3 linked regions of the Homo sapiens genome follow. The protein of the gene in region 1 interacts with the protein of each later gene in a pairwise test. Each region holds a gene or a part of one and is shown in the gene's direction. Other genes may lie near its edges. The genes, in order: NR0B1, ESRRG and RORA.

Region 1 (2,845 bases):
TTTAAATACATTATATATATAGGTTCAAACTTAAGGAGATATAAAACTGTGGAGTCCATTTGCATTTTCTCTTCCCTGACCTTATTTTGAAGGCCAGTTTGTGTGTCTCTGTGTGGGGGGGAACCACTTGGGTGGGGAGAAGGTGGAGGGGTATATTGTGAACACAGAGAAAAGTAATGTGGCATACACAAGATGAAGTTTTCACAAGCCATGAATCTAGACCTAGAGAAGCTTCAGATTTCTGGTGGAGTTTCATGCAAGCCTCTTCCTACTTTCATCGATGGAATTCAAACACAACAAAATTGGGTCTTAAGCCTGGATCTCAAGCTGTAGATAGAAGGGGATGATAATGTGTGGACTAGAGTAATCAGAACTGGAATATGGATTAAAATGGTTGCTTTATTTTTGTTCTTATTTATGAGATTTGATATTCGCCCATAATAGGAGTGCCTCTCGCTTATTACCATTATTATTTTTTTAAAGAACACTGGTTCTGCTGCTCTGTGATGATTGGCATGGTGCTTTTAAAATACTTTTCTGTTGAATTTTTTAGGAAAAGGGAAGGAAAATGATTGCAATCATCATTAACATCATTTAAACCAAGTGGTCAACTGCTAATTACTTGAATACAAGTTAAAGAACTTTGCAACGATATTATCATCATGGAAGATCAAAGGACCTTCAAAAGCAGCCTCCTCTTATTACTTTCCTTATAAAAACTTACATCCACTTAAACTTTCCTGCATTTATTTCTTTCACTTTTACTTCGGTATCACACTATACTGCAAAAGGTCATGTGTTTTCTATTACAAAAGTTATTCTTGAATCATGGTACAATTCGTGATGTTTTCATGTTTACTTTTTAAACTTTTAATGACTATAAGAATTTTCAAAAACTTCTTACTTTAATATTTTTGAAAAGAGCCTTTTTGAACACTCATTAGAATCATTCTTTTATTTTTTTCAAAATCTTCCCCAATACAGAAATCATGGTGCAATGAGCTAAGTGGCCAGTGTTAGCTTTCAAATTATTCGGGCCTCTAGACTAATATTGGCCTGCAGGCAAATAGGTAAAATGAAACTGTGCGTCAAAGTTTGTGGCTGTGAAGTTTACCACCATTGGCTGAACGATCAGTGTAATGATGGAAAGTTCAAAGAAGAATGGTAAAAACATTTGTCTCATGGCAACACTTCTTGTTTATCATGGCTTGTTTCTCATAGGTAAAGTGCCCACCTCTTGAAATATCATGAACTTCTTCATATTTGCATAGAAAGTGAACTGGAGTGATGATTCATTAAACCGTATTCTACTGTCATATTAAATTGTGTGCGTTTGTTGGCTCATGGCCAGTGTATTTGCAAACGTGTGCATAGAAACATAGTAAATATTAAGTAAGATCACATGATGTTTCATTCTTGGACACGTTGCTTCTGAAAACGTAGACTGGTTTGGCCTTTTACCCTTTTAACCGGGAAGCTTTGGGTCTTGTTTAATTGGGATGAAACAGAAATGGCTATTTTTAAAAAGCTAGCAAAGGACTCTGTGGTGAGCTGTTTTATAACAAAGAGATTTTTCTCCCTCCAGACGTGCCGGGCCTGCAGTGCGTGAAGTACATTCAGGGACTCCAGTGGGGAACTCAGCAAATACTCAGTGAACACACCAGGATGACGCACCAAGGGCCCCATGACAGATTCATCGAACTTAATAGTACCCTTTTCCTGCTGAGATTCATCAATGCCAATGTCATTGCTGAACTGTTCTTCAGGCCCATCATCGGCACAGTCAGCATGGATGATATGATGCTGGAAATGCTCTGTACAAAGATATAAAGTCATGTGGGCCACACAAGTGCAGTAGTGCAGTTCACCATGAGGGAAGAATAAAGAGCTGTGGGCAAAAGAGTGTAAAATATTTTAAAATAAACTTTCTTAATATTTTTACATGCAGAGTATTTTTGTATTCAATTAAAGAAATAATTTTATTCCAGACAGTCACAAATTTCTCTGTTCCATAGTTAAAGAAGACATTTGCCAACAGGTAGCATAGCTCTGTACATCTTTTAAAAAAAAAATAGCAGGGTACTAGTATAATAAGCTATTTTCACAAGTGTAGCAATTTCATGGAACCTGCTCAAATCAAATTTGTACATATTGTTATAATAAATTTTAAGGTCTTAACTATTAACTTGATTGAAAAAAGCTTCAGCAGGGTTTAAGTAAGGCCTCAAAAACTATTAAAACCTAGCCAACATAAGCAAAAAGTATCTTTGGAAGTAACAACATGACATTGAATGTAATTATGTGCCAGTATCAGTGGGAGGTCACTTTGCTCTATCTTCATTTCCACTTCCCTCAGCTGTATGGAAGACTGCGTTTGCATCCAACTGGAGTCAAGAAGCAATCTGTAATTATAAAGACATGCAGAAGTGAAAGAGGAGATTTTCTGTTTTATTGGGGGATCTTTTTGGTACACAGTTATGGATTTAAAGATCCACAAGGAACATACATTCTATAATGAGGGGTTATAGTTCCAGAAAGCTCAACATCATTATAAAACCACTAATTACACTTCATCTTTTAGATACATTACGTTTGTAACTGGTATATTGAACAACATGGCATGAAATCATAAAGCAACTTTATTGTTATCTCCTGCTGCCCCTTTAATTATAATCCATAGAACTAATTTTTCTTTGTGTCCAGATAAAATCAAGGCTACTATATGTCTATTTGTTTATGGGCAATAAATTGCCTGTTATTAATGAGTGTATCTAGTCTAGGGTAATAACCCATTGCAGGAAGTCTTAAACTTTCTTTCGTGCAGATCCCTTTGGCAGTCTATTGA
Region 2 (3,660 bases), on another chromosome or scaffold:
TCCTTCTGGTCAGTTAAAGTCCATTTCAGTATACTGGCAAAGATCTATATGTGCATTTGAATGTAGCTATAAACCACGCAACACTAACAATTAGAAATACAACCTATGGCTATATGGAATTCTTTCAAACAATATAGAAAAGGAAAACACTTGGTTTTGGCATTTAAAAAATTTTAAATACCTATTAAATTGCCAAAACTTACAGGGAGCCTACTTCAGATTAGATTAAATTCTAAAAGAAGAACTGAAAAGTACATTTATATTTTAATTATAAAAAACAGTCTTTGTCATATATATTCCTCTGTGACTTCTCATTTTTCTTTGAGTGAAACAAAATTTCATATATACTTTTCATCATTTTGGTTGGAAGTACACATTATGTGTAATATGCTTTGGCAGGACTTACCTAGCCAAAGAAAACAAATTAATATTGGGCATACTGAGGGCTGTCAGGCATATCACAGACATGTCAATTTAACTTTGCTTCATTATACACCTTTTCTGCAAACAGTTGGCTAAGATGGTACTAAATAAAAGGGAAGCTACCAATAAATTCTCATATCAGATTGATGGCTAGTATAAATGTAATGAAAAAACAGCTTGCTTGCTTACTTATCTTTAAAAATGAACTGTAGGAATACAGATAGCATAGATAGCAATAAGTTTCCAAGAAAAAAATAAATTAGGTTCATTCAAATTTTTCTACTACCTTGAAAGTAAAATAGGTTTAGAAAGACAAAAGTCTCTGAAGTGGTGAACCTCAGTGGCTCTTATTTATGAAGTAAATAAAAACTTGAAGAAGTGGAGAATCCAAAGGAACACGGACAATCCACCTTTATCAGGGGACACCTCTTTTTGTTGCACTTTGCATATGTTTTCTGGAAAACAAAAAAATCTTACGCTTTCTTTTTGTATGGCATATTCAATATGCAAAAACAAAAGAAAATTAAAATATAAATTAAGAACTTATGTACAGAAAATAGGCAGAAGCACACTAAATTCTTTTTTTCCATGATCACAACAATACCTTTGTAAATGATAATTCCTTTTTCATCTACTCTAGAAAGATTTTACTCATTTTTCATGGCTTTTGAGAATTTGAACAAAGGATTCATTAAAGAAATATGTATTTTTTTCATACTCACAATGTGAGTTAAAATATCTTAAAAGGATACTTTTCAAGGCAGTTATTATGTAACAATATTTATAAGAACTTATGTTGCTTTGAAAATAATAGTAAATGCATATTAGTCATATATCCAGAACTGCATCCAAAATTAACCAAAATAACAGGTCATATAAAAAATTATAGACTGAGGTACTCATTAAAGAGAAAAAAAATAAACTGTGAGGTTGTTCAATTGATTGCCCTTTGCCCTCCATAATTCCAAATTATCCTAGTACATTAACTTCTCCAAAAATGTAAGATGGGCATGTTAAATTGTATTCATTTTCACATAAATAAAAGAATATTCTGATAATTTTTAATTTCTTTTCAGCCATTAATCCATTAAAACAGATCAGATATTTTGAGGAGGAATATCATACCCGTAACCAACTGTTCATGACCAAAGAAAGGGAAAGATGTATATGGTTGGTGAGAACCATGTCTTTTTCCTATGAGAAAGTGACTGTATACAGTTGGTGCTGGGTCCTATGAAATGACGGAAACATCCCTTTTATCCATAGACTTGAATGAGACCTGCCTCATCAGTCATGGGATCATAGTGTCACAGATGGAAAAGCAACTATCAGCTGAATTGTACTGAACTACACACTTGGCTAATTCATCTTATTGCTCTACACATCTAAAGGAAGGCTCATTCTGTTCTTGGAGTCTAGACAGCATCAGGAGTTGGGCTCAGGTGGGAGCATGTGGCCGCCTTTTTCTGTTCTCTCGTAGTCATTCAGCAAAGGGAGGTGAGGAACAAATGGACAATTTATGCACAGAAGCTCAGGCAGAGATTCTTTCCTAGGGTCAGGAATTTGTTGTTACTCAGTCATTCAAGTAGATTTCCGATTTCTCTTATGCTCTAGAAATGTCATTGTTATCTTTCATGCTCCAAAGTACTACCCGTAAATGATTAGGTGTGTCTTTCAATTCGTATGAGCCATGACCTAGTTTAAGCATTTTTTAATAGATAGAAATGGAGAACAGATCATCTATTTACATTAATGTGAATGATGATTCTTTTTTCATGTCTTTATATTGAACTATTCAGTTGGTTAAGTCTGAAGAATAAGACAAATAATAAGAGGTTAAAAACTCAAATTGTATTTTTTTATTTCTTTATTTTCTTATAGTGAACAAAACTTTAATGTCTAGAGCATTTATGAGGGTTTTAATGATTGGAAAATCTATCCTGAGAATGTGGTCACCATATGTGACAGCCTTGCTTTCTATCTTGTCTTCAGTTTCTGGGGTAAGTTCGGTGATATTGTCTATTGTCTTCCTTTGCTTACATTATAGAACTTCTCTGCTGCCACATTGAGATAACCTGAAGTGTGGGGGGAATGCCTGCTAAGTTCTAAAACACTTTCCTAAACACCTTCCCTTCCTCTATCCCGGCAGTATTTTCCTTTACAATTTCTGTTTCTATTCATCTGTTTTATTAAAGGGTCATTTACTTTGGTAAAAGGTAAGTGCATGATATTCACCCATATTTGCATACAGAGTACACCTGATTTTCCCTCTGAATTCCAAAGAGATTGCCTTCAACTTTTTATATTTGTTTTTCTTTTTGTTTCTGTTTGTAGTGCATTCTAGTTGAGTGCTTTTATAGTGTTTTCTTGATTGTTGTCAGTTTGGGATACTGGAGGCTGACATTTTTGCTAAGTTAATGTTACAGCAGAAAAACCTATGGTAAACTGGAATCTGGCTATAGTGCATAGAAGATACAACTTATGTTTGATTGTGTGTAAATACAGTTAGTTAGTTGGGGGTTTATCAGATAGCTTGGCAGAAAGAGAGAGGAGCAGTACAAACTGTTTTCAGTTAACTGTGCTGTTCATACACCTGATAAGACTGAGAGAGCTTTTCGAAATGCTGATAGGCTTTGAATAAGAAAAGAATAATCACTTCTACTGGCACCAGCTTATCAGGAATGAAGTAAAATGCCAACACTGTTACATTAGCAAAAGTAAATGTTTTAGACACTCTGTGCCTTTTTTCATTCAAGTTAAATAGGAGGGGTGCTTTTGAGTGTGCTGTTATGAATAGAGGGATTTATTACCTTGATGAAATTACAGGTGAATATGTTGATAAAAGAAACTTCAGCATCAACAGCAGCTTCTTTGATAAGCAGGTGCGTCTCTGCTGTACATTCTCTGGAGAAATTAAGTACTCCTTTCTCCACTCCAATTCTATTAAACATCATTTCTGATGTTAGAAGATGCAGTTATGCCCTATGTCAATCCAGTCTCCCTCTTTTTTCAGCAGATGGGTTACAGGTATTTGAAACTTAGCTGATCAGACTTGTAAAATGCTAGTGTGCTCTGGTTAAATAAGTTAGGGCATCTGTGAGTTGTGCTGAACGAGCAAACTCCTACAGGAGAAATCTTTTTTTTTTTTTTTTCAAGAAAGGAATGAGATTAATTATAAAGTTAGGATTCTTTAATGAGAAGATAAATGTATTTGTCCAAGTAATAGTCCATCTTAAA
Region 3 (3,660 bases), on another chromosome or scaffold:
AGGAAAGTTGGTCAAGAGTTCACACAGACTAAAGAATGAATGTCATCAGGTTTCTGTTTAAATATCTTTTTTCTGAAGCTACTAATGTACTTGAGGCTTTGCCATTTAACTCAGATGCAAAATTTCAGCAATAGCAAATAATTTCTATTGTGCTTTCTAGGTATACACATACCTCCTTCCATTTGTCAACAGGAGAATAGATTAAGCAGCTTCCAAAAGTCTAAATGAATTGAGAATTGTCTCAATATCACAATCAAGATTTTAAGGTCTGGAAGTTTATGTAAAATAATCTCAGCCTAATGTTTCTGGAAGTTGACAAGGAAGCCTCATGTTTCTGGAAGTTGTATTAGGGAGTATATACAAAAAAAATTTAGAAGCTGTGATCATAACTCCAGTCTGAACCTAGCAATATGAGGCTGACAAATAGTACCCTACTTGCCTTTTTCTGTAAAACACCCAGATCAACAAGATTATCTAAGTGAATCCATTTTACATTTGAGGAAAACTAACATCCACTGGCATGTCTGGAGAGTGAAACATCAAGACCAGACCTTGACTCCTGGCTCCTAATTCAGTGTTTCTTCCACCCCATCATATCGGTGGGAACAGTCTGAAACTAAGATTGGGGAAACAAGTTAGCAACGAAAAAGATCCAGACCATTCTGTAACTGAAATGGAGAGTGCGAATATAAAAGGAATTTAACAGGACATGTTGGGGAATAGCAACACATTGCTTTGTTTGCCTTTGAGGTAGCAGGTAATGCCAGCAGCCAAAGCTACAAAGGAGAAGCAAGAAAACAGTAAGAAGCAACAAAGTATATGAAATAGGATTTTAGAGTCAGAGATGCTTGGATTTGAATCCTGGCTCCCATATCCACCAGTTTTTTGTTTTGTTTTGTTTTGAGACAGTCTCACTCTGTCGCCAAGCTGACACTTGCACTGGCGCAATCTCGGCTCACTGCAACCTCCGCCTCCCGGGTTCAAGTAATTCTTCTGCCTCAGCTTCCCAAGTAGCTGGGAGTACCGGTGTGTACCACCACGCCTGGCTAATTTTTGTATTTTTGGTAGGAACAGGGTTTCACCATGTTAGCCAGGCTGGTCTTGAACTCCAGACCTCAAGTGATCCCCCTGCCTCGGCCTCCCAAAGTGCTGGGTTTACAGGCGTGAACCACCGTGCCCAGCCAGAAAAAATATTCTTATGAAAGTGAATTAAAACAAGGATGTCATAAAGCGCCTAGCTCATAGTAGGTGCACAATAAATTCAGTTGATTCTCCTTTTCTCCCTTCCCCCAAAGTAAAGTGGTGTTAAATTTCCCAAGGCAAAATAATTACTTAAAAGAAGATCCAGACCGGGCACGGTGGCTCATCCCTGTAATCCCAGCACTTTGGGAGGCCCAGGCAGACAACACTTGAGGTCCGGAGTTCAAGACCAGCCTGGCCAACATGGTGAAACTCTGTCTCTATTAAACATACAGAAATTAGCTGGGTGTGGTGGCAGGTGCCTCTAATCCCAGCTACTCAGGAGGCTGAGGCAGGACAATCACTTGAACCCAGGAGGCAGAGGTTGCAGTGAGCTGAGATTGTTCCACTGCACTCCAGCCTGGGTGACAGAGCGAGACTCCATCTCAAAAATAAAATAAAATAAAATAAGATCCCACTTTGCCACTCTTCGTGGCCCAGGGCTAAAGCAGTGGCATGCTTTGCTTTCATAACTCTGCAGCTTCTGCTACAAAAGCTAACATCTTCCTGGAGGATGTTAATGTGTTTCCCTCTTTAACAGCAGCGGGAGGTGATGTGGCAATTGTGTGCCATCAAAATTACAGAAGCTATACAGTATGTGGTGGAGTTTGCCAAACGCATTGATGGATTTATGGAACTGTGTCAAAATGATCAAATTGTGCTTCTAAAAGCAGGTATGTGCTTTGCAAGTGAATTTTGAGATCTCTTCCTAACCTGCTTTCACCCGCTTATTAAAGAAATGCTTGGTAAGGAAGGTGTCGGGAACAGTTTTTCTCCAATGATAATAGCTCAGGTTTTTCTTAGCAGAAATGGAGTTCTTTTCAAAGGTTTTAAGATATATTCAGGAAACATTCCCCCCACTTTTCTTCTCTTCTGGGTGAAAAGATTAATTTGAAGGTCACCTACATTCCCAAATTTTCCCATCACGTGTGTTTTGTTTCTACACTCCAAGTCCTCCGAGTTTATGATGTTAGGAAGAAGAAAGTAGAACTCAGAAAGATATACTTGTTTTTGATTCTTGGTTTTAGTACATATGAATAAATGCTTTCCTAGCAACTCTGAGACTCTGCATTGCGAGGTAGAAGAGTGCTAAGGAAGTAATTTATAAATCAACCCTCACTTCAGTTAAACAGGGCTTAGCTTCAGCACAACAGTCTTTTAATTACATAGAAAACTCTGCCCTTTTGGATAGACAGCTGATGTGACTGAGAACCCGCTAGCTAAACTGCACACGACACCCACCATGCTGTTGCAGAAGGAGTCTCTACATGAGCAGCTTAGAAACAAACTCACTAACATCAGATGACCCAAATGACCCAAACCATTTCTGCCTCTGCTTAGGTTCTCTAGAGGTGGTGTTTATCAGAATGTGCCGTGCCTTTGACTCTCAGAACAACACCGTGTACTTTGATGGGAAGTATGCCAGCCCCGACGTCTTCAAATCCTTAGGTAAGGGGATATCAAGGTGCCTTTTCTTCAAATCAGGGCTATAGGAAAAGATGCGGGTTGAGTGAAAGCTCTGCTTGGACAAAATGAAAACTTTATTTAGAAACAAAAATTAAGGGGTTTTATACCTATTTTACTTTCTAGTTAGTCACTGTAGAAAAGTCATATAGCTCAAAAGTTTTTTGTCTACATTACTTGTAAAGATGTAGAGTTTCATTTTATCTAGTTGGTAATCAAAGGGATTTATATGACGTGTCCTTCCAGTTCCCTTCCAGATTTTAAGAAACCAGATTTGCTGGTGATATATTATTCGGATGACCTTTAGGATGTGAGCTGATACATAAAATTAAGCAAAGGGCAAAAGCTTTGCCCTTCCATCCCCCTCAAACAGTAACCATTAATGAGACTGAAATGCAGATATCAAAGAAATAAAAGTTACAGTTAAGTGAAACCATGATATATAATTTATAATAAATAATTTGGGGCCAGGTGCGGTGACTCATGCCTGTAATAGCAGCACTTTGGGAGGCCAAGGCAGGCGGATCACCTGAGGTCAGGAGTTTGAGACCAGTCTGGCCAACATGGCAAAGCCCATCTCTACTAAAAATACAAAAATTAGCTGGGCATGGTGGCACACGCCTGTAGTCCCAGCTACTCAGGAGGCTGAGGCAGGAGAATCACTTGAAACCGGGAGGTGGAGGTTTAACTGAGCTGAGATCATGCCACTGCACCCCAGCCTGGGTGACAGATTGAGACTCTGTCTCAGAATAATTAATAATAAATTTTGGATTTCTATAATTTAAATAAAATGAACATAGTTATTAAGAAGAATGGATAAGTATCTAAAATGAGTGATTTTTTTAAAAGTTATATGACAGATGATATATATAATGAACTGTCATGTAGCACATTGTCATTTAAATATATACATTTATATGTAAAATATGCAAATCTGAAGGAATAGACACCAAACTT

What was found.
Region 2: the proteins of NR0B1 (region 1) and ESRRG interact in binary tests that used the Homo sapiens proteins (3 or more experiments, as listed by UniProt).
Region 3: the proteins of NR0B1 (region 1) and RORA interact in a two-hybrid assay, tested with the Homo sapiens proteins (one large-scale study listed by BioGRID and IntAct).

What each region holds. Positions count from the first base shown.
Region 1 is NC_000023.11:30,303,564-30,306,408, reverse strand, and holds the end of NR0B1 (nuclear receptor subfamily 0 group B member 1), read left to right. Parts: intron 1-1,585; coding exon 1,586-1,830; 3' UTR 1,831-2,203; downstream 2,204-2,845. UniProt on the Homo sapiens protein: Nuclear receptor that lacks a DNA-binding domain and acts as a corepressor that inhibits the transcriptional activity of other nuclear receptors through heterodimeric interactions.
Region 2 is NC_000001.11:216,713,279-216,716,938, reverse strand, and holds part of ESRRG (estrogen-related receptor gamma), read left to right. Parts: intron 1-1,689; exon of another isoform or gene 1,690-1,865; intron 1,866-2,304; exon of another isoform or gene 2,305-2,423; intron 2,424-3,660. UniProt on the Homo sapiens protein: Orphan receptor that acts as a transcription activator in the absence of bound ligand. Binds specifically to an estrogen response element and activates reporter genes controlled by estrogen response elements.
Region 3 is NC_000015.10:60,501,788-60,505,447, reverse strand, and holds part of RORA (nuclear receptor ROR-alpha), read left to right. Parts: intron 1-1,780; coding exon 1,781-1,913; intron 1,914-2,580; coding exon 2,581-2,688; intron 2,689-3,660. UniProt on the Homo sapiens protein: Nuclear receptor that binds DNA as a monomer to ROR response elements (RORE) containing a single core motif half-site 5'-AGGTCA-3' preceded by a short A-T-rich sequence.